4 separate regions of the Homo sapiens genome follow, and all the other regions are linked to region 1. Evidence: fine-mapped expression QTL. A gene starts in region 1. Each other region holds a variant in brackets. All regions are shown on one strand. Distances are between the middles of the regions.

Region 1 (5,142 bases):
GTTGTGGTCGCCATGGCGACGGGTCGCGGTTTTATTTTTAATAGCGGCCGGCGATTAGAGAGATGCCTGCACCGCTTTCGCCTAAGCTCTGCGTCCCCCGCGGGTGAAGCACCCACGCCCCGCCCCAGCCCCCGCCTCGCTCCAGCGCCCCTTGCACGTCCCCAGGTGGCCCTAAACTCTAGCTGGGCGCACCCGTAGCTCCAGGCCGGGCAGGGGAGCCGAGGGAAGCAGCCATCTAGGCCCTCAGAGGCGGCGAGGACCCCCAGGATCCCTCAAGCTGGGAGGGACGGGTACCCCATCCCCAATACAACGCGACCTTCCTCCTTGCCTTCCACACCGTCTTACCGAGTCCTCTAACCCCACAGAGGTGTCCTCGGGCCCCCTCTGCGCGCGAGCAGTCCGAGGCCCAGGAAGACAGGATGCGCGCCACTCCGGGATAACTGGCCGAAGAATGAGGCCGGGGTCCGGCCTGCGTCCTGGCCCTGCGAGTCCGGCTCTTTCCAGAAGCCATGCAGTGGGTGTCCCCTCCCAAGCCGCAAGTTCCCCCTGGAGGGACAAGGCCTGGCTTTAAGGGGCTCCTCCACGTTTCCAAGGCTCCCCTGGTTCTGTCCCGGTCCCGCTTGGTCCTGACCACCCAGAGGGCATGCTTGACCGCGGGGGTCGTGGTGTGGGGCTGCGGCCAACGGAAGGGAGAGACGTGGGGAGGGGGCCTGCAGGTGTGTGGAAGGGCGCGTGTAGACGCGACCCACTGGGAGCGGAGGGAGAGGCGTCGCTCCCCAAATATTTGGGGGAAGGGGAGAGCCCCCGAAGCGCTCTCCGGATTCGGCCTTTGAAATGCTAGAGCTGGCCTAGCTGGGGATGAAAGACCGCCCGCGGGGCTGCGCCTTAACGGCCTTTGTCTGGAGGGAGGGCGACCGCGACGGGGGCAGGGGTTTAATCGACAGGGTTGGGGGTGACGGCTGGGCCGGGCGGGATTCTCCGCTGCTCACCCAAGGAAGCGTCTCCTGGGCTCCAGGGGCCTAGGCCGTCTAGCCTCGGGGTCTGCACAGCACGCCACCCCGCTGGACCCGGTACCAGGACGCGTAGACCCCCTGGCAGGGCACTGACGAGCACCTGGACCTGTAGTCAGGGTCCAATCCCTCCTGGTCTAGGGAGGCGAAATCCATCCAGCCCAGGCGCACCCGCCCTTTCTCGGCGTGGGAGCCGTCTAGCCACGCTCAGACCTCGGCCTCCGCGCGCGTTCCTCCCCCGCATCGCGCTCTGAGCTGCGCCTCGGCCGGAGGTGGCGCTCTGTGCGCCCCACGGATCCCGACGCGGGAGGCTCAGAACCCGGGGGACCCTCACCGGTGGCTCCTTTCCCTTCCATCCCCTCGACTTCCCGGCTCAGGGCGCGGCCCTGCCTTCGGCGCGGGAGTGGGGGACTGGGGGGCGCGGGGTCCCAGGGTGGGGACGAGGCGGGCTGCAGGCCCTTTCCCCGACTGGAGCTCGCTCCCAAGTGGAAATGTGGGTGGAGGGTCCTCATTCAGATGCCCCAGGCCTCGGATCCTGGGCGGGGGCGCGTGGCAGCCGCCAGGTGAGTGCCCCAAACCCGCCCCCCTCCTTCCCCAAAGACTGACTCCCCCTCCTTTTATGGAGAGAGGAAGGCTGGGGCCCTGGATCCGAACCGTGGAGAGCGGCCGGAGCGCCGGGGCGGGGGCGGGGACCGGCTCTCTGGCCCTTTTTGGCGCAGCAGCTCTGGGCGCTGCCCGCTGCCGCCGCTGGGGCCCGAGAGAGGCGAGCCGGCGACGGCGGCGCTTCTGCGGCGGCCTCCTCCCTCCCCACCCGGTGCCGCAGGATTGCAGCTGGCACTGGAGGGTGGGCAAGCTCGAGGGAGGGGCGCGGAGCCCCGGCGCGGAGCCGGGCGCGGGGCTTTGATGGATTTAGCTGCTTGCGCGAGCGCGTGTGTGCTCCCTGCCGCGGCGGCGGCGCCCGGGCCCTGCCGGGTCCGCACGAACCCCGAGCGCTTCCGAGGTGCGGGTCCCAGGCCCGGAATCCGGGGGAGGCGGGGGGGGGGGGCGGGGGCGGGGGCGGGGGAGGGGCGCGGCGGCGGCGCTATAACCCTCTCCCCGCCGCCGGCCGGCTCCACACGCGCGCCCTGCGGAGCCCGCCCAACTCCGGCGAGCCGGGCCTGCGCCTACTCCTCCTCCTCCTCTCCCGGCGGCGGCTGCGGCGGAGGCGCCGACTCGGCCTTGCGCCCGCCCTCAGGCCCGCGCGGGCGGCGCAGCGAGGCCCCGGGCGGCGGGTGGTGGCTGCCAGGCGGCTCGGCCGCGGGCGCTGCCCGGCCCCGGCGAGCGGAGGGCGGAGCGCGGCGCCGGAGCCGAGGGCGCGCCGCGGAGGGGGTGCTGGGCCGCGCTGTGCCCGGCCGGGCGGCGGCTGCAAGAGGAGGCCGGAGGCGAGCGCGGGGCCGGCGGTGGGCGCGCAGGGCGGCTCGCAGCTCGCAGCCGGGGCCGGGCCAGGCGTCCAGGCAGGTGATCGGTGTGGCGGCGGCGGCGGCGGCGGCCCCAGACTCCCTCCGGAGTTCTTCTTGGGGCTGATGTCCGCAAATATGCAGAATTACCGGCCGGGTCGCTCCTGAAGCCAGCGCGGGGAGCGAGCGCGGCGGCGGCCAGCACCGGGAACGCACCGAGGAAGAAGCCCAGCCCCCGCCCTCCGCCCCTTCCGTCCCCACCCCCTACCCGGCGGCCCAGGAGGCTCCCCGCGCTGCGGGCGCGCACTCCCTGTTTCTCCTCCTCCTGGCTGGCGCTGCCTGCCTCTCCGCACTCACTGCTCGCGCCGGGCGCGCTCCGCCAGCTCCGTGCTCCCCGCGCCACCCTCCTCCGGGCCGCGCTCCCTAAGGGATGGTACTGAATTTCGCCGCCACAGGAGACCGGCTGGAGCGCCCGCCCCGCGGCCTCGCCTCTCCTCCGAGCAGCCAGCGCCTCGGGACGCGATGAGGACCTTGGCTTGCCTGCTGCTCCTCGGCTGCGGATACCTCGCCCATGTTCTGGCCGAGGTTGGTGCCGCCCCCGCGCCCCGTCCCTGCGCCGGCTCCTCCGGCGCACACCCCCCGCCGGCTGGGGCGCCACGGGCTCTGCAGAGAGCGTTTTGGTTCCTGCCAGGGTGGTCGATGTTTAGATTTTCCCAACTGGGTTCTATTTTCTGCCATGCCTAAGTGTGTGTGGGGAGTTTCCAGCGTGTTGCGTCGGTCGCTCTGCCTCGGGGGGACCGGGGAGCAGCGAGGTGGACGAGTGGGCAGAAACTTCGGGGGGCGCAGTGTCCTCTCCGGGGAAGGGGAGCTGGGGCGCAGCGGGCGCTGCAGCAGCGGGGTGCGGGGAGCGGGGAAGGGGGTGTGTGTGAGCCGGCGGAGCCTGGGGAGGAGAGAAGGGCGGCGGATAAATAGGTAGGGGCGGCTGCTGCGGAAGCCCCTGGCCGGGCAGGGTGGGCAGCGCCAAGCTGCAGCCCTCGGTTCCCAGTCCCCAAGCCCGGCGGGGCTCAGGGCCGGCGCAGTCCCGCCCGCCCGGGCCTGCTTACAGGTGGCTGAGCGAGGCGAGCTGGGGCTGGGCCAGGCGTCCGCACCCTCCCACCGCGGCGTCCCCGCCCCCCCATCCCCATCCCCATCCCCATCCCCGGGAGCTTTGCTGTGATGAATGACTTTCCACAGCCCCCGTCGTGGGAACTTAGTGCTTCAGGCTCCCCAGCGACCCCCGACTCTCCTTAAAAATCGGGGAGGGGAGTGGGGGAGGCCAGAGGTGAGGGTGGTCTCCGCAGGGCACGGAGAGCTGCGCGAGGTGGAAGTTTAACCCTCGCTTTCCCTGGAGGCTTCTTCTCCCGGCCGCCGGCTGGATTTGGGCGTCTTAGTCGGCGCTAGGGCCGCGGCTGGGCCGGAGCCCGGGGTGGGGCGAGTGTGTGAGTGAGATGTGTGTGCGCGTGTGTGTGTCTGCGCGCGCGTGCGTGTGTTTGTGAGACGGAGAGACCTCTCCACGGGTTCGGCCCGGGATTCCGGGGCGTGAAATTTAAGCCCTGCCTGGATTAAAGTGTTAGGGCTGCCGTGACTCTCGCCGACCCGTGACGCATTTTAACTTGATCTTTCTAGATGTTGATCTCACTATTAAATCAGAAACTTTCGGCCCCCTCGCTGCCCCCTAGACCTTCTGTAACTGACACCCCGGGTGGAGGGGCCGGAGTGCGGGGGCTTTTGTCTGAAAATATAAAGGGGGGGGGGCTTTGATTTTGCAAAGGGCGGAACATGGATGCGGGTGGAGAATTTGGGGTCTCTTCCAGCCCCACCCCCGGCTTCTGGTTCCAGGGCCGGGGCGAGGGCTCCGCGGGGGCTGGGGCGGGGACTGCGGCCGGCGCTCGCGGGGTCTCCTCGGGCCCGGGGCGGCGGCGCTCCTGGCGGCCGGGGGCGCGTGCCGGCGGGGTCGGGGCCGCGGGCGCTGACCGTGTGGCCTCTGCTTGCAGGAAGCCGAGATCCCCCGCGAGGTGATCGAGAGGCTGGCCCGCAGTCAGATCCACAGCATCCGGGACCTCCAGCGACTCCTGGAGATAGACTCCGTAGGTAAATCGCGCCCCTTCCCTCCGCGCGCGGGGAGGGCGCGGGCGGGCGGCCTGTGCGCCCCGAGCTGGGGCCGGGCGGGGCGCCGCGCAGGAGCGCACCGAAAGGTCAGAATCCAATCCCCAGCCATAAGCGCCCGGGCGGATGAGTCAGGAGTTTCTCTTCCAGTCTCCACTTTCTCTCCCAGCGGCGGCCGAGGGCTGCTCGCTCGCCCCGGGATTGTTTTCGCCTTTAAGGAAAACGCCGCGTGTGTCACACAAAGTTCAGCCGCGGCCTCCGCCAGGTGTGCGGGCCCCGCGCCTGCCCTCGGGCCGGGGGAGCGGCAGGATCCGGCCCAGACCCTGGGCGCAGAGCCCTGGCCCGTGCGCCGGGCGGGCAGCCCGCGGAGCGAGGCCCCAAGGGCAGGCGCGGCTCCCGGTCCGACGGGCGGGCGGGCGGAGGCGGCCCCCGGGTCAGGGCCCGGCCCCCTCTGTAATCCCTGCGAGCTGGTGCCGCGTTCTTGCCGCAGGGCTGGGCCTCTGTGGCTGCAGAAGCCGGTGTCTTTCTGTTTTCACGACCCAATGAAAAGC
Region 2 (5,142 bases), 71 kb before region 1:
TTGCTTTTTCTTTCTTACCTTTTTGTTTTTTTTAATTTTTTTGAAACAATGTCTCACTGTCACCCAGGATGGAGTGCAGTGGCACAATCTCGGCTCACTGTAGCCTCCGCCTCCCCGGCTCAAGCCATCCTCCCTCCTCAGCCTCCCGAGTAGCTGGGACTACAGGCGTGTGCTACCGCGCCTGACTAATTAAAAAATTGTTTTTTGTAGAGACCTGGTCTCACTATGCCACCTAGGCTGGTCTTGGACTCCTGGGCTCAAGTGATCCTCCCGCCTCAGCCTCCCACAGTGCTGGGTCTATAGGTGTGAGGTGTGAGCCACCGTATCCGGCCTGATTTTTCTTTCTTGTAAGCTTTGGAGTCCTCTGTTCACCCTGATCCTTACCCAGGACCTCAGCGTTTGGAAGCAATGGATGTAGAATTCTGTGGTGGAGGCTGTGCTGGGGTATCCAGAGCCCAAGACCCCCTTGGAACCTGAGTCTTTGGTGGAGGTTGGACCCTCCCCGCCCCTCAGCCCCCGCTGACCAGTATCCGGAGTGACTCGGCACAGCCAGTGGGGCCAGGAGGGGACCAGTGTCCGGAGTGACTCGGCACAGCCGGTGGAGCCGGGAAGGGACCGATGTCCGGAGTGACTCGGCACAGCCAGTGGGGCCAGGAGGGGACCAGTGTCCGGAGTGACTCCGCACAGCCAATGGGGCCGGGAAGGGACGCGGCTTCTCCATTTCTCAGCACAAGCAGTTTGTCACTTGTAGCCTCGAGGACGCTGCTAAGGTCACGGAGGGTCCCCGAGCCTCGACCGGGGCTTAGTGCCCTGCAGTGTCCACGTGAGGCCACGGCAGCCGGGAGGGCCCGTGTGCACCCTCACTCGGGCGGGACGGTGGGCTCAGGAGCTCTGAGGCAGCCGTGATGTGCTGAGGGTCACACAGTGTGCACGTGGGGACCCTGATCCATGGGGGGATCAGAGCCGGGACCTGCCTGGCAAGTCCACCTCACGGAGGCCCTGGTGGGAGGAAAAGTGGGCACCGTTCACAGCTGGCGACCCCTGCTCCGCCTGCCTGGGCCTCTTTCTCTTCTCATTGGCCCTGGGGTCTGTCACGCTGGGTTCCACAGCGGTGCCTTCAGACTGAAGTTGCCAACCCCACAGCCGTGCGTGGGAGCCGGGGCTGGCTTTCTGGTGGGCTTCACCTCACGACTTTGGGGGTGTGTGGCTGTGGTGTGAATCTGCTCCTCCTGGCTTTGAAGTGTGAGGGGATGAGGCCGTGTTGCAGCCATCTGGGGCCATTGTGGGGAGGGTCAGGCATCACCAGTCATTTCACCCCACTGACAGTGCGTCTCCAGGCTGGAGAAGTGGCTGCTGTATATATTTTTCTTTTCCTTTTTTTTTCTGTTAATAGAGGTGAAGTCTTGATATGTTGCCCAAGCTGGTCTCAAACTCATGAGCTCAAGCGACCCTCCCGCCTTGGCCTCCCAGAGTGCTGGAATTATAGGCGTGAGCTGCTGCACCTGGCAGCCGTTATCAACGCTCCAGTTTTCCAGGCTTTCTGTGTGTAGGTGCTGGCAAGATGGGGCAGAGCTGAGGCCGGGACCCAGGCCCCGTGCCCCCCGAGCCGACTCATGGGAAGTGGGTGGGACCGGTGTTAAGAAGCCACTTCTAGCGCCCCCGCCCTCCCCGTGCCGTGGGCTTGAGGAAGCCCTGTACCTGGAAATGGGGGTCACCTGCCTTTTCCCACACAAAGCCCCCCTTGGGGATGCCGGCAGACACACTGCAGAGCCCCCACGTGGGGGTCCCAGTGCCCACCGGCCAGCTCGGAGGCCAGCTCCCAGCCCTGCCTCACCGACCGTCTCAGCCACAGAAGGAACATGATCCCAAAAGGGGCAGTCTTTGGGGCCGGGCCCTCCCCCGGGGGCCCCTGGCAGCCTTCAGCTGTCACCCCGCCGCGAGAGATGGACGGGTGCACGAGGCTTTAATGTCTGAGGTTCCCCGGGCAAAACACGCTTGCATTCCTCCGGCTGGGCGTAATTGCTGGGCAGTCAGTGTGAATTATAAATTATTTTTCAAAAGAAGTGCTTTTTTTATGGCTGGCAGAAATCTAAAATGGCCTGGGCTGGGTCATTGCGCCTGCCACTGCCCCGGGCATCCGGCCCGCTCTCCGCTCTCGGGGGCAGACACGCGGCACTTTCTGCTGCCGACGGGCCTGGGCTCGGCGTTTCTGAAAAGATCGTTGTCACTGAGGAAGCCCGGTTCGTTCAGGCACCCGCAGCGGGTGGAGAAGTGCCGTCTGCACCGTCTTGGTCTTGGGCCAAGTTCCTGAGGTTTTTCTGGACCTGCTGGGCTGTGGGCTTTTGCCAGAAAGAGGGGACCTTGGGGAGGGCTTTGGCAGAAGATAGGACACCCCCTGGACTCTAAAATTGGGGCTTACAGCCATT[T/G]TAGTGCTGCTCTGACCCAGAGCTGATGGAGAAACTGAGACCTGGGTATCGGGGAGGGCTGGGTTCCCACCTGCATCTCCTGCGTCTGCGTCTGCTGTGACTTGCAAGGCCTGGGGCTGTTTTCTCCCCGGATGCTGGCCTCTTGGGCTCCAAGTGCCCATCTCTCGGGGCCCCGCCCCCACCCTGCTGGTCTCTTGGTCCCCTGGACTGGGCACGCGAGGGCCACACGTTGGAGTGGCAAGGTCAGTGCCGCCAGGCCAGGATTCCAGTGGCTGCACCCAGCTGTGCCCACCAGGCCTGCAGCCATGTTCAGCTCTGTGCTCTCAGCTGCAGCTCTTCTCCTCACCGGTGCGTGCCTTGGGCGACAGAGTCCTGCCGTGCTGTGCTGATGTGCACATACTTTGGAGCAGAGTCCCCTTATGGTTTCACACCCTTTGCTGGGCCGGTGGTGCTCAGGGCTGTGGGAGCCACACTCCTCTTGGAGTGTCCTGAAGGGCGTGGGGCTGCACAGCAGAGTGCCAGAGCCCCCTCTGTCTTCTGGTCTCCAGGCACCGGGGGAGGCAGGGCCCAGGGAGCCAGGCCACCGACATTTCCGGTTCTCTCTGCGTGGTGTTGAGCCCCCTCTCCCTGCAGCAGATTCCGTCTGAAAGTGGCCCCGTGCCATTGAACATGTCCAGAGCTGCCCCAGCTGCCTGACCCTCACAGGGCCGTGGGCTTGGTGTTGGCATCATGAAAGCAACATCCAGGGGCTGGATCGTCCCGGCTCCTCTCTCTGTCCCGGGCAGCCTGGGCACGTTGCATGCTCTGAGCTGCCCTTCTCCAGTCTCACGTGAGGGTGCAGCATGATGACGTGGTGCCGTGCACACGGTAGGTGCTCTGTGGATGCCACTTCTGTTCTTCCAGAGCAGATAAGATGCTGAGTGTGTGAGTGGAGGTTCGGGATGACCTTGTTGTCTCCAGGACAGTGTGGGGCCTGGCCGTGCGAGCATCCATTCTGGAACAAGATTGTCCCGTTTCAGTTCTTGGCCTCAGCACTTAGCAGCTCGGTGGGCATAGGCAGGCCACACCGACCCTGAGCCTCTGTTTCTTCCATAGAGTGGAGATAATAGTAGGCTCAGCTGAAAGTGTGGATCTCGGGAGGTGCCTGATTGCTGGGGAGCATTCAGCATAGTGAGCCGTGCTTATCGTCATCACCTTCTGGGAGGAGGAGGAATCTTGGCAGTGGTGGGGGCTGCTGAGGACGAGGGCTGGGTCAGCAGCTGTTTGCAGGGGTGTCTGACCCCATTTCTGAGCTCAGGCACCTGACATACCCCTGCTAGTCAATGGGAAGCAGACAAGGACCAAGGTGGACATGGCACCCGTGGAGCGGTGGTGAGGAATTTGGGAGGACAGAGAAGGAGCCCAGGCCAGAGACACACGGAACAGCTGCTCATTTCAATCACTCTTCTCATGGAGAAACCGAAGACCAGAGGGGACAAGACTAGTCCAAGGGCATGGGGAGTCATGGGTAGGCTGGGGTTGGAATTGCAATGTCCTGACTTTCCCCGTCAGCACACTTTTGTGTACCCGGTAAAAACCACTACCACCATCATCATTGCCACCATCACTACCATCATCAGCACTATAATCATCACTACCACTATCGTCACCATCATCACCATCACATCGTCATCACCACTGTCACTATCCTCACCACCATCACCACCATCACCACCATCTCTATCCCCACCATCACCATCACCACCGTCACCATCACCACCACTGTCACTATCCTCACCAACATCACCACCATCACCATCACCACCATTACCATCACCACCATCACCACCATCATCGTGATCACCACTGTCACTATCCTCACCACCATCACCACCATCACCATCACCACCATCACCATCACCATCACCACTGTCACTATCCTCACCACCATCACCACCATCACCATCACCATCACCACCATCACCATCATCGTCATCACCACTGTCACTATCCTCACCACCATCACCACCATCACCATCACCACCATCACCATCACCACCATCACCATCACCACCGTCATCACCACTGTCACTATCCTCACCAACATCACCACCATCACCACCGTCACCACCATCACCACCGTCACCACCATCATCGTGATCACCACTGTCACTATCCTCACCACCATCACCACCATCACCATCACCACCATCACCATCACCATCACCACTGTCACTATCCTCACCAACATCACCACCATCACCATTAGCAGCAACATAACATTTGTTGAGAATCAGTTCTCATAATGACCCAGTGAGGCAGGGATTTTTATGGTCTCATTTCACCAAAGCCCAATGATGCAGGTGACACATTCAAACCTGTACTTGTCCACGTTGAGTGGACTGCCCACTGTGTCCTCCATGCTGAGGCTCTGGAAGGCAGGGGAGGGTGGGTGTCCTTAGGGTCCTTGTCCCCATCATGGAAGTTGGGCTCAAGCCACACCTTCGCTGGGCTCAGTCGTCTGATCTGTGAGTGGGAAGCTTGGTGCAGCTCCAGGAGTCTGTTTCTGGACACTGAGGGCGGCTTGGGAGCGAGTGGGGAGGGCCACGCTACCGGAAATGGCCTGTGCCCATGGGAAAGGTCAGCCTGGCCACCAGGGCCCAGAATAAGCAACTGTGGAAACAACCCGGCCTGAGCCCCACACAAGTCACTGCTGTGCCTCGGGGACTTGCGCGCC
Region 3 (5,142 bases), 22 kb after region 1:
GATCGAGCTTCATGACTTTCATCTAAGGGTGGGATTGCAGAGCAGGGAGGGTAGTCTTGAGGTATCATCAGTGTCCGCCTTCTGTCTGGCTAGTGGCATCCATCTGCAGTTGCCTCATGGCCCAAGGTGGCTGCTAAAGCTCCAGAAACCACATCTGTGCTCCAGGCTGGAAGAAGGAGTGAGCGGGGGGGGGGGGGAAGGGCAAAATAACACCCTTAGAGAGCTATCCTGGAAATCCCACCCAGTGACTTTTGTGTTTTTCTCAGCTGCCATCCCTCCACTGCAAGGGAGCTTGGGAAATGTCTCCTAGCAAGACATGTCGCTTCCCAGATGGAGGTGGGACCTGGGCAGCCGCCATCATCACGGAGGAGGCAGTTTCAAGCCTTCCTGGTCCTTGGCATTGGCCCGTCTGGCTTGGGAAAGTTGGAGCCCTGTCTGGCCTGGTTCCCCCTCCTGGCACGTGGGACTCCATGGTGGCCAAAACAAATAGTTTCTTTAGAAGAGAGGAGGATCTCAGAGATAGGGTGTCTGAGAACCCTGGCTCCTGTTTGCAATGTGGGACTTGGGCCTGCGGGTGAGGTCCATTCATGAGGAGCCTCTTGGGAGGAAATTGTCCACTTGGGCGGGTCTTTGAAGCAGTCCAGGACTGTTGGTCAGCCTTGGCTTTGTTTGCTGAAAGTGTGGCCTGGTGGGTGGTTTTGTGCCTGCCTGTGGGTCCCATTTCTACAGAGCGTTAGGCTCTGGCCTCCATGGGCCTGCTGGTGACAGACCCCATGGTGAGAGGCTGGCACTCCTGTTGTCCCATGCCTGGCTGGTACTCATGTTCAGCCTATAGGCAGCCCACGTGTTGGAGTGTGCGATGGAGAGGCCACATGGGATGTGGAAGAATTGTTCTTAAACGATCAGCATAGGTCTGCCTGGGTGCAGACTCTTCTGTCTGGCTGGTGGCCTCCATCCTCAGGGTTGTCTCATGGCCCAAGGTGGCTGCCAGAGCTCCAGAAATCACATCTAAGCCCTAGGCTGGAAGAAAGGAAGGCAGAGAGAAGGGCAAATGAGCCATTCTTGGCCTCAGTTTCCCCCATCTGTACAATGGGAGAATGGGGCTTGGTCTCTAGACATGTTCTGTGAGATGCTGTGAGCCTAATCCCAATTCCTGTCAGGGTACTGCAACATGGCCAATGTGGCAAATGTGATTCTGGAAATTTCTTGAAAACTTGAAATCCCTGTGTGCCCCTGATTGGGTTAAATGTTTTCACCCTGTTTTCCTCCTATGCAGCCATGTGTGTGCTGGGTGGTTCACTTGGTCGGTGGTCTCAGTGTCTGTCTTTCCCTTCTCCCTGCAGATGTGAGGTGAGGATGAGCCGCAGCCCTTTCCTGGGACATGGATGTACATGGCGTGTTACATTCCTGAACCTACTATGTACGGTGCTTTATTGCCAGTGTGCGGTCTTTGTTCTCCTCCGTGAAAAACTGTGTCCGAGAACACTCGGGAGAACAAAGAGACAGTGCACATTTGTTTAATGTGACATCAAAGCAAGTATTGTAGCACTCGGTGAAGCAGTAAGAAGCTTCCTTGTCAAAAAGAGAGAGAGAGAAAGAGAGAGAGAAAACAAAACCACAAATGACAAAAACAAAACGGACTCACAAAAATATCTAAACTCGATGAGATGGAGGGTCGCCCCGTGGGATGGAAGTGCAGAGGTCTCAGCAGACTGGATTTCTGTCCGGGTGGTCACAGGTGCTTTTTTGCCGAGGATGCAGAGCCTGCTTTGGGAACGACTCCAGAGGGGTGCTGGTGGGCTCTGCAGGGGCCCGCAGGAAGCAGGAATGTCTTGGAAACCGCCACGCGAACTTTAGAAACCACACCTCCTCGCTGTAGTATTTAAGCCCATACAGAAACCTTCCTGAGAGCCTTAAGTGGTTTTTTTTTTTGTTTTTGTTTTGTTTTTTTTTTTTTTGTTTTTTTTTTTTTTTTTTTACACCATAAAGTGATTATTAAGCTTTCCTTTTTACTCTTTGGCTAGCTTTTTTTTTTTTTTTTTTTTTTTAATTATCTCTTGGATGACATTTACACCGATAACACACAGGCTGCTGTAACTGTCAGGACAGTGCGACGGTATTTTTCCTAGCAAGATGCAAACTAATGAGATGTATTAAAATAAACATGGTATACCTACCTATGCATCATTTCCTAAATGTTTCTGGCTTTGTGTTTCTCCCTTACCCTGCTTTATTTGTTAATTTAAGCCATTTTGAAAGAACTATGCGTCAACCAATCGTACGCCGTCCCTGCGGCACCTGCCCCAGAGCCCGTTTGTGGCTGAGTGACAACTTGTTCCCCGCAGTGCACACCTAGAATGCTGTGTTCCCACGCGGCACGTGAGATGCATTGCCGCTTCTGTCTGTGTTGTTGGTGTGCCCTGGTGCCGTGGTGGCGGTCACTCCCTCTGCTGCCAGTGTTTGGACAGAACCCAAATTCTTTATTTTTGGTAAGATATTGTGCTTTACCTGTATTAACAGAAATGTGTGTGTGTGGTTTGTTTTTTTGTAAAGGTGAAGTTTGTATGTTTAC[C/T]TAATATTACCTGTTTTGTATACCTGAGAGCCTGCTATGTTCTTTTTTTGTTGATCCAAAATTAAAAAAAAAAATACCACCAACAAAACCCGTGGACGTGAGAAGCGTTTTGTGGTACGTTTTTCTAGCACTGAGTCTAGACCCTGGTTGCCAGGTCATGCGGTGCTGTGTTGGGTGGAAACGGAGGTCAGAGCTTTCTGGGTGGGGTCCCTGGACCTGCCTCCATGGTGGCACCCGTGGGATGCCTGCCTACCTCGGACTTCAGCACCTATGGGGGTTAGGCCGAGGACATCCTCCTGCAGGCTCCACTCCCTGGAGCGGATGAGGAGTGTCAGAGTAGCCAGAAGACCATGAAGAGTTTCATCCAAGAAGGGAGCCCACCTGTCTTGGTGTGTCCATGTGCAGCACTCACCATACCCTGCCCGGGCTGGCCCCTCCACCACCTCCAGGCCCACGAGACAAACCATCGAGGTTGCTTTCAATCTTGACCCCGCGTTCTTCGAGGACCATCTGTGGACTGGCGGCCGGCTGGCGTCTGTTGTCCATGTGCTGCTGGAAGGTTCTTACGAAGGATTATCTTCAACAGCTCATCTTCATGGTGCTGTTTTCAGCCTCGTCAGGGCAGCCTGGAGGCTGGAGGGGAAGTGCAGGGCCAGGTGGTTGCAAGCTGGTTCCTGTTCCTTGGACACCTGCTGGGGCCCTGCCTGGGCCTGTGGGCTGCTGTCCAGATCTGCACCGGTTACAGCGCCTTGCCCAGGAATGTGCATTGGATGTGACGTGTGGCAATGTAACATGTATTTGTTTCCATGAGATGCTGGCGACAATGCTCCATTTTTCTTTTTTGTATAAAGTCGTCTGGTGTAATACCGTGTCCATTAAAGTGATGGGGCAGAAAAGCCAGGTGGGGAAGAGAGAATTCCATAAGAATTCCATAGGTCTGGAGCCCAGGGGTGGCTGAGGTAGCAGTAGAGGTGGGAACTCAGGCCTGCTTTCTCTCCCTACTTACTCCTTCCCTCCCTCACTCCCTCCTTTTCTCCCTCATTGGTTCATCCATGCAGGCGAGGGCCCTAGTGCCAGCCCCTCCTGTCCCGACATGGGGAGAGCCCTGGGGAGGGGCAGGCAGAGTGGAGGCCACTCCAGCCAGGAAGGGCTGCAGTGTGGCGGGGGCTGTGGTCTGAGGCTGGATCCTTTCCGAGCCTCTCCACCCACGTGGGCCTGCAGCCTTTGTCGCGGCTCTGCCCTGCGTTCCCGGGATTTCTGCTCCTGCCTGGGCCCCCTCCCGGCCCCTAGCCCTGGGCTGCACCTGGATCTGGGCTCAGGAAGGTGACTTTCTGCCCAGGGTCAGCTCTTCATGTCTTGTGAGCCCTGTGACCTTGACCGAGGGGCCTCCATCTGCATGTCGGCGTGCACATCTGTGAAACGGAGCTGCAGCTCAGGCAGGGTAAGGACGCCTCGCCATTGACTCACCTGGTGCAGGTCTTGTCTGCTGCCTCCTCCTGCTGGGACTTCACTCCAGCCTCTAGTGTTTCTAGGCCCCAGCATGGCAGAGGACAGAGCCCTTGGGCTCAGGGATTGCTGAGCGGCGATGGTGCCGCCTGTTAAAACGAGGTTCCTGCACCTGCCTGGACACCTGAATGCACCTGCTCACACCGTGCCCTTGCCAGGGGTCATGAGAGCTGGGGCCCAGCCTTTGCTGGGCTTCTCCTTTAGCTTGGGGGTGTTTCCTTTTCTTCACCCAGGCCTCTGTGTCCTGGCTGTGGAGGGGGTTGGAACTGGCTGGGAGAGTCAGTGACGGCAGGTGGTCTCCAGCCGTGGGTCCCTACAGCTGTCTTGGGATTCCCAGCGGTAGGTGAAGCCGAGGCCTGGGTCTTTGCCTGGGTCCAGTGCGCAGAGCAGTTGCTGGGCTGGGCCAGGCTCGGGGATCCCGTTCTGCAGAGAAGCCCTTCTGGTTTGTGCCCTCTTGTCAAGCACAAGAAGCCACGGCCCTCCTGGGACCTCCTTGGTTTTTTTGGGCTTTTCATACTTAGCCATGGGTTCCTCCAAGAATTCTAGGGGTGGGAACTTGAGGGCTTGGCTCCCATTTTAAAGATGAGTGAGCTGTGCCCCTGGCAGGCCCGGAACGCCTAGGGGGCCCCAAGTAGAAGGGTCGCAGGACACAGAGAGGCAGGACTTGTGCTGTGGCCGGGCATCCAGGGGCCCTTCCATCTCCTGGGCCTTGACTCTGCCCCACCCCAGGGGTGGGCTGGGCCCCAGACTCCGGAGCAGCATTGGGGCGGGAGCTCCCCAAGTGCCTGCAAACAGCAGGGCCAGCCAGGCTCTTCTGGGGTTGTGTCCTGGGCAGGTGCCCAGCCTGGGACTGAAGCTCCTTGCCCTGCACCTATCACCAAAGGGCCAAGATTCACAGAGATTTGCCTCTGCATGCTCCCTGGAAATGGGGTCAGCAAGGACCAAGATACAGACCCCAGGGAAGATGGCGACCTCCAGGTCCAAAAGGAAGAGCAGGTATTTGAACTCAAGTAGCAAAAATCACAGAATTTCCTGCACCCCACAGACCCCCGTTCCCTCACAGA
Region 4 (5,142 bases), 36 kb after region 1:
CCCCACAGATGGCGATGCAGTGTGTACGTCCTGCAGCTCCTCGTGGCCTGGCGAGTCACAGCCTGTCCTGTGTTGATTTTGCTGCTCAGCAAGGGATGTGGGCAGATAGTGTCACAGTTATTTATCAGGAGGCAGAGAACCCCTGGCAGAAGTGGGTCTTGGGGAGGCTAGACTCACTAGAGCCCCAGCCTGGGAGCTGTGGCTTGCTGGCCTGCAACCGTGGACCCCAGCCCCTGGGGGCCCTGGAAGCCTGTTTCTCCATGATCAAGGGCCGTTTTTTGCGAGTGTTTGCAAGGGAGGAAGGGCTTCCTGCAGGATCTTCCCGTGTGATGTCTCTATGGGCTTTCTCCTGGGACAGGGACCCATCAAAGGTGGGAAGGGAGGGTGGTGCTGTCCGGGGAGGTAGGTGAGGGGACCACAGTCTGAGGTCCAAACTGCAAAGGGTTCACCCCGTAGCCTCCTCCCTCCTTCATTCCCTCCTTTCTTTTGTTCTCTCCCTCCTCACCTCTCCATTCGTTTTTTTGGAGCTACTGGGGCTGGAGCCGCCTCCTGGGATTGTGGCAGCCTTGGAAGATGGGTCCTCCAGTGAGAGCCTCGGGGCTGGGAGGAGAGGCCCAGGGTGCCGCAGTCCCAGTCCCAGGGTCATGGGGGGCCCTCGAGCGCGGGGGACCCTGGGGCCTCTGTGCAAGGGATGGCTCTGGGGCCCTGTGCTGATGGAGGACTCTGTGTTTACCTAATGAGGGGGTGCATGGGGGTTGGCAAACAGCCCTTGACTGCTGGCGGAGGCTGTCGGCTTGGGTGGCTTCCAGAGGCCCCTCAGCCCTGCATACCTTCCTCCCGGGCTCCAGTCCCGCCTCCCCCACCTTCTCGAACACAGACCTGCAGCGACCCTGAACAAAAGGAAATCCCTAAAGCTAATGTCCATGGGGGCTGGTGGGAAGTGAGCAAGAGTGGGGGTGGGGTCAGGGCCCTCGGAAGCAGGGGTCATGCGGGAGTGGGAGTGTCCCCCTGCCTGCCCCAAGCCCAAGGGGAAATACCTGAGTGAGCCCTGGCCCGTAGGAGGCGTGTGAGGAATGTTCCAAAAATCCTAGGCTGAGTGAATGAGGCCCTCACCCAGGCAGGGTCTAGGGCCAGGGACAGAAAGGCTTGTCTGAGGACACACTGGGAGCCAGCCCGTCTTTGGGTGACCCCAGACGTCACCCCAACCTGGATTTCCAAACCAGGTCCCCCAAGGCTCTGGCCCTGAGCAGGTGGAGGAGGGGAGGGGCAGGCAGACACAGTGTCGGCTTGGGGGAACGGGGTTGGGGGTACGGCAGAGGGACGGTCCCACATCTAGAGGCCAAATTCAGGACAGCCTAAAAAACACCCTCCGGAAAAGGCAGCCCAAATCATCTCATGTGCTTCTGAAATTCTTGCATTTTCCCCCTCAAAATCTGTCCTAGTTATGCTTGAGATCTCCTGACCCCAGAATACTTTTATTTATGACAGAAAATTCATCTCCATGGCAACGCCTTAGGAAGCTGCAGCCTCAAGATTATAACTTCCCAAGCAATGAAGACAATAAATGGATTTTTCACAAAACGGCTAAGAGCGACTCTGGCAAGAACCGGCCCCTCTCTGCAGTCTGGGGAGGGGGGGTTGGAGTTGAGAGGGGTGAGGGGACAGAAGGAGTCCCTAGGGCTGAAGTAAAGCCCACCAATGTGGTGGGTCTGAGGGAGGAAGCTTCACATTGTCTGTGTTCCGGCTTTTAAAGAGCAGCGCACTTAACCCCTTCGTCAAATCAAACATGACCCTGGGTTGCCCTAGAGGCCCTGAGCGAGCATCACCACATCAGGCCTGGCAGGCGCCTGCACACTGCAGTGTCTGAGCCCCTCAGCCACCTCCAAAGCACACATTTGTGCCTTGTCTTCACTGTCTGAGAAACAGGCATGGAGGATGAAGGAGGTCTCCTTGTCCCAGGGAACCACAGGAGCCTCTCTCTGGCAGCCTTTAGGGATCCAAGGCTGGAAACCCCTTTGCAAATAGCTTGGAGCAGCTTTCCAGGCTCAGCCCAAATTCCACAGTGAGGGGGCAAGTACTGGCCAGTTCCAGCAGAGATACTTCCTCAAATCAGATGGTGCGCATTGCAGGGGCCTCAGTTGGACATCAAGGTGGAGCCATCCCCCTGGTCCTAGTTCCTGTCATCCATCCATCCACTCATCCATCCATCCATCCATCCATCCATCCATCCATCCACTCATCCATCCATCCATCCATCCATCCATCCATCCATTTTTTAACCCATACCCGCGTATTTCACCGCCAGTCTTCCCATCCCACCCATGTTGTGCAGCCCCTTTGTCCATGATACCGAGGCTGTCCCTTTATCCCCGCCCGCCCAATATCCCACGGGTGGGGGGGCCAAGGACTGGCCCAGGTCCCCGCCAAAGTTCTTCCTCAAAATCAGGATGGACCCATTGGCAGGGGCCTCAGTTGGATATCAAGGTGGAGCCATCCCCCTGGTACTAGATCCTCTCATCCACCCATCCACTTATCCATCTATCTATCTCTCTATCTATCCATCCATCCAACTATCCGTCCATCCATCCATCCAGTCATGTGTCCAACCATCCATCCATCTTCTATCCATCCATCGAACTATCCACCCATTCATCACTTACCCATCCATTCACTCACACATCCATCCATCCATCCATCCATCCATCCATC[A/CATCCATCA]TCTATCAGTCCAACCAACCATCTATCATCCATCCAAGTATCCACCCACCCACCCATCCACCCATCTGTCCAACCATCTATCATTCATTCAACTATCCACTGATCTACCCATCCATCCATCCATCCCTCCATCCAGTCAGTCATGTGTTCAACCATCCATCCATCTATCATCTATCCATCCATCAAACTATCCACCCATTCATTCACTTACCCATCCATCCATTCACACATCCATCCATCCATCCATCCATCCATCCTTCCATCCATCAATCCATCCAACCATCTATCATCCATCCAACTATCAACACACCTACCCATCCACCCAACTGTTCCAACCATCAATCATTCATCCAACTATCTACTGATCCATCCATCCATCCACCTATTTATCTGTCCATCCAATTATCCACTCACTCACCTACACATCCATCTACCCATCATCTACTTACCCTTTCACCCTTCCATCCACTCATCCATTCATTCATCTATCTAACAATCTATCATCCATCCAACTATCCACCCACTTGCCTACCCATTCACCCATCCGTTTATCCAACCATCAATCTGTTCAGCCGTCTATTATTCATACAACTATCCACCAATCCACCTATCCATCCATCCATCCACCCATTCATCCATCTATCCATCCATCTATCCATCCAACTGTCCTCCATCCAACCATCCATCCATCCATCCATCCATCCATCCATCCATCCATACAACATAAGTTCTTGAGCACCTAACAGGGACCTGTCACTCTGCCAGACACCATGAATTTCTTGCCTTCCTGGAGCTAACCATTAAGAGGGAAATTTAGACATTAATCATACACAAAAAGGAACATAATCGTAGACTGAAGTAAGTGCCTGAAGGAAATGACAGCAGTGACTAGTGCTGCTTGGGGGCAGATGGGGTGTTAGATGCTTTAGGTTTTAATTCTCACAACCACCCATGGGTAGGTGCTGCCAGAGACCTATGCTTCAAAAATGGAGAAGTTGAGGCACAGGCTCAGGAAGGATCTTACACCAAATCTTGTAAGTGGAGGAGTCAGAATGTGAACTTGGCCCTTCTGAGTTTTTAATCTCTAGGCTATTCTGCCTCTCAGGTGGGTGGGGAGGGTCCATAAGGGCCCCTGATCTGGTCTAGTGGGATCTCTGGAGACTCCCCACAGTGTTATTGAACCCAAGGACCAGCAAGGGATGCAGGTGAAGCACAGAGAAGGTGGCACGCAGGAGGACCACCGCATGGGTTGTGCTCATTCAAGGCAGGAGGGCACTAAGAAGCAGGACCAGCCCCAGCGGTGGGGAGGGGAGGGTGGGGAGGGGAGGAGGTTGGGGAGGGGAGGAGGGTGGGGACAGGAGGAGGGCGGGAAGGGAGGGAGGAGGGTGGGGAGGGGAGGAGTGTGGGGACGGGAGGAGGGCTGCCCACCGTCCTGGCCCCCCAGAGGCACCAAGCCCTGCAGATGAGCTGCGCATGAGAAGGAGAGAGAGATTTATTAAGAGCGGTTCGCCGTCAGTATCCAAACCTTCACAAGTTAGACAGAGTCGGTCTTCACTGGAGGGGGCATTCCTGGGCCCAGCTGCTCTTCAGAGCCTGCTGGAAGCAATTAATTAGCGGGACCAGGTACCTGTGTCCTGCCGGGCTGGCCCCACCTCGGCCTTCCTCTGGAGCTCCTGCAGCCCCAGGGAACCTGTCCCCAGCTCACGGATCTGAGATCTGCAGGGGCTCACACTTAAACTGTGGTGCCCTCTGACCTGGCCTGATTTCCATGGGAGCCCATGGCCTGAGGGGAGAGGAAGGACAGTGCCAGGCTTCGGAGAGGGGCTGTTTTCTTTTCAGGCTCCCTGGAGCCCTGGCCAGCTGCCTCCCCTCCCAGGTTCCACCTGGACTCCTCCCTGCCCTCCGCAGGGCCCTGCCTGGCCCTCTTTTCCTATCAATCAGAAAACAGCGACCTGGCCTGCACCTGACACTTCCTCCATCTCCCCTGGGCCTGGCCTCGGGCTCCTCAGCAGCCCTGGATTTGGCCTGGAGCCAGGGGTCTGGGCAGAGGAGAGTGCTTGCTCGGGACGAGGAGAGGCAGTTCAGGGCCTGGAGGGGACTGGGTGAGCTCAGCCTGGGGCTTCTCCGGGAGGCTGGCAGCTAGAGAGTCCTGTCTCCAGGGGCAGACATGCACACAGGGAGAGATAAGCTTGCGGTCAGCAGCCATGCGAGCCCCGGGAGTGCCTCCTGTCCTCACCAGGGTGGTGGTGGGGGCACCAGAGGTCCCAGCCCCCATGCTGCCCCACCCTGATCCTCGGCCTGCGCTCGCTCCTTGCCCTGCCTGCCTGAGCTGCCCCTGCCTTGGCTCCCAGGGGCTGTTGGGCCCATCTGCATGGCTGCCCCCCACCCACAAGCCCCCTCCTTTGGAGAAGCACCTGTCAGTGTGAGTCTAGG

Alleles and levels. Alleles are on the strand shown, and positions count from the first base shown. SD is a standard deviation of normalised expression in the study named. Not every link is listed here.
With allele G in place of T in region 2, the expression in T cells of the gene that starts at base 2,124 in region 1 is higher (large effect, 1.0 SD a copy in GENCORD).

Evidence for each region. PIP is the estimated chance that this variant, and not a neighbour inherited with it, causes the effect.
Region 2: its variant is fine-mapped to the expression of PDGFA in T cells (GENCORD, PIP 0.95).
Region 3: its variant is fine-mapped to the expression of PDGFA in whole blood (INTERVAL, PIP 0.97).
Region 4: its variant is fine-mapped to the expression of PDGFA in whole blood (INTERVAL, PIP above 0.99).

Annotation. Positions count from the first base shown.
Region 1 is chr7:516,828-521,969 of GRCh38, reverse strand. PDGFA (platelet derived growth factor subunit A) reads left to right here and starts at 2,124. Exons shown (of 6, transcript NM_033023.5): 1 at 2,124-3,031; 2 at 4,480-4,576. The coding sequence starts at 2,969. PDGFA-DT (PDGFA divergent transcript) reads right to left here and starts at 1,579. Exons shown (of 3, transcript NR_033963.1): 1 at 1-1,579. RefSeq lists enhancers at 1-566, 2,411-3,332, 4,255-5,142 and silencers at 1,655-1,994, 2,095-2,184, 2,465-2,604, 3,065-3,154, 4,998-5,097.
Region 2 is chr7:587,934-593,075 of GRCh38, reverse strand. All of the region lies in intron 7 of PRKAR1B (protein kinase cAMP-dependent type I regulatory subunit beta), which reads left to right. Among named protein-coding and RNA genes, the nearest start is that of PRKAR1B-AS1, 12 kb to the left of the region's middle. RefSeq lists a silencer at 1,921-2,067. The variant T/G (reference allele first, on the strand shown) is at 2,427.
Region 3 is chr7:494,776-499,917 of GRCh38, reverse strand. PDGFA (platelet derived growth factor subunit A) reads left to right here. Exons shown (of 6, transcript NM_033023.5): 6 at 1,344-2,660. The coding sequence ends at 1,354. Among named protein-coding and RNA genes, the nearest start is that of PDGFA, 22 kb to the left of the region's middle. RefSeq lists enhancers at 2,629-3,549, 3,550-4,471. The variant C/T (reference allele first, on the strand shown) is at 2,573.
Region 4 is chr7:480,546-485,687 of GRCh38, reverse strand. No RefSeq gene overlaps it. Among named protein-coding and RNA genes, the nearest start is that of PDGFA, 37 kb to the left of the region's middle. The variant A/CATCCATCA (reference allele first, on the strand shown) is at 2,710.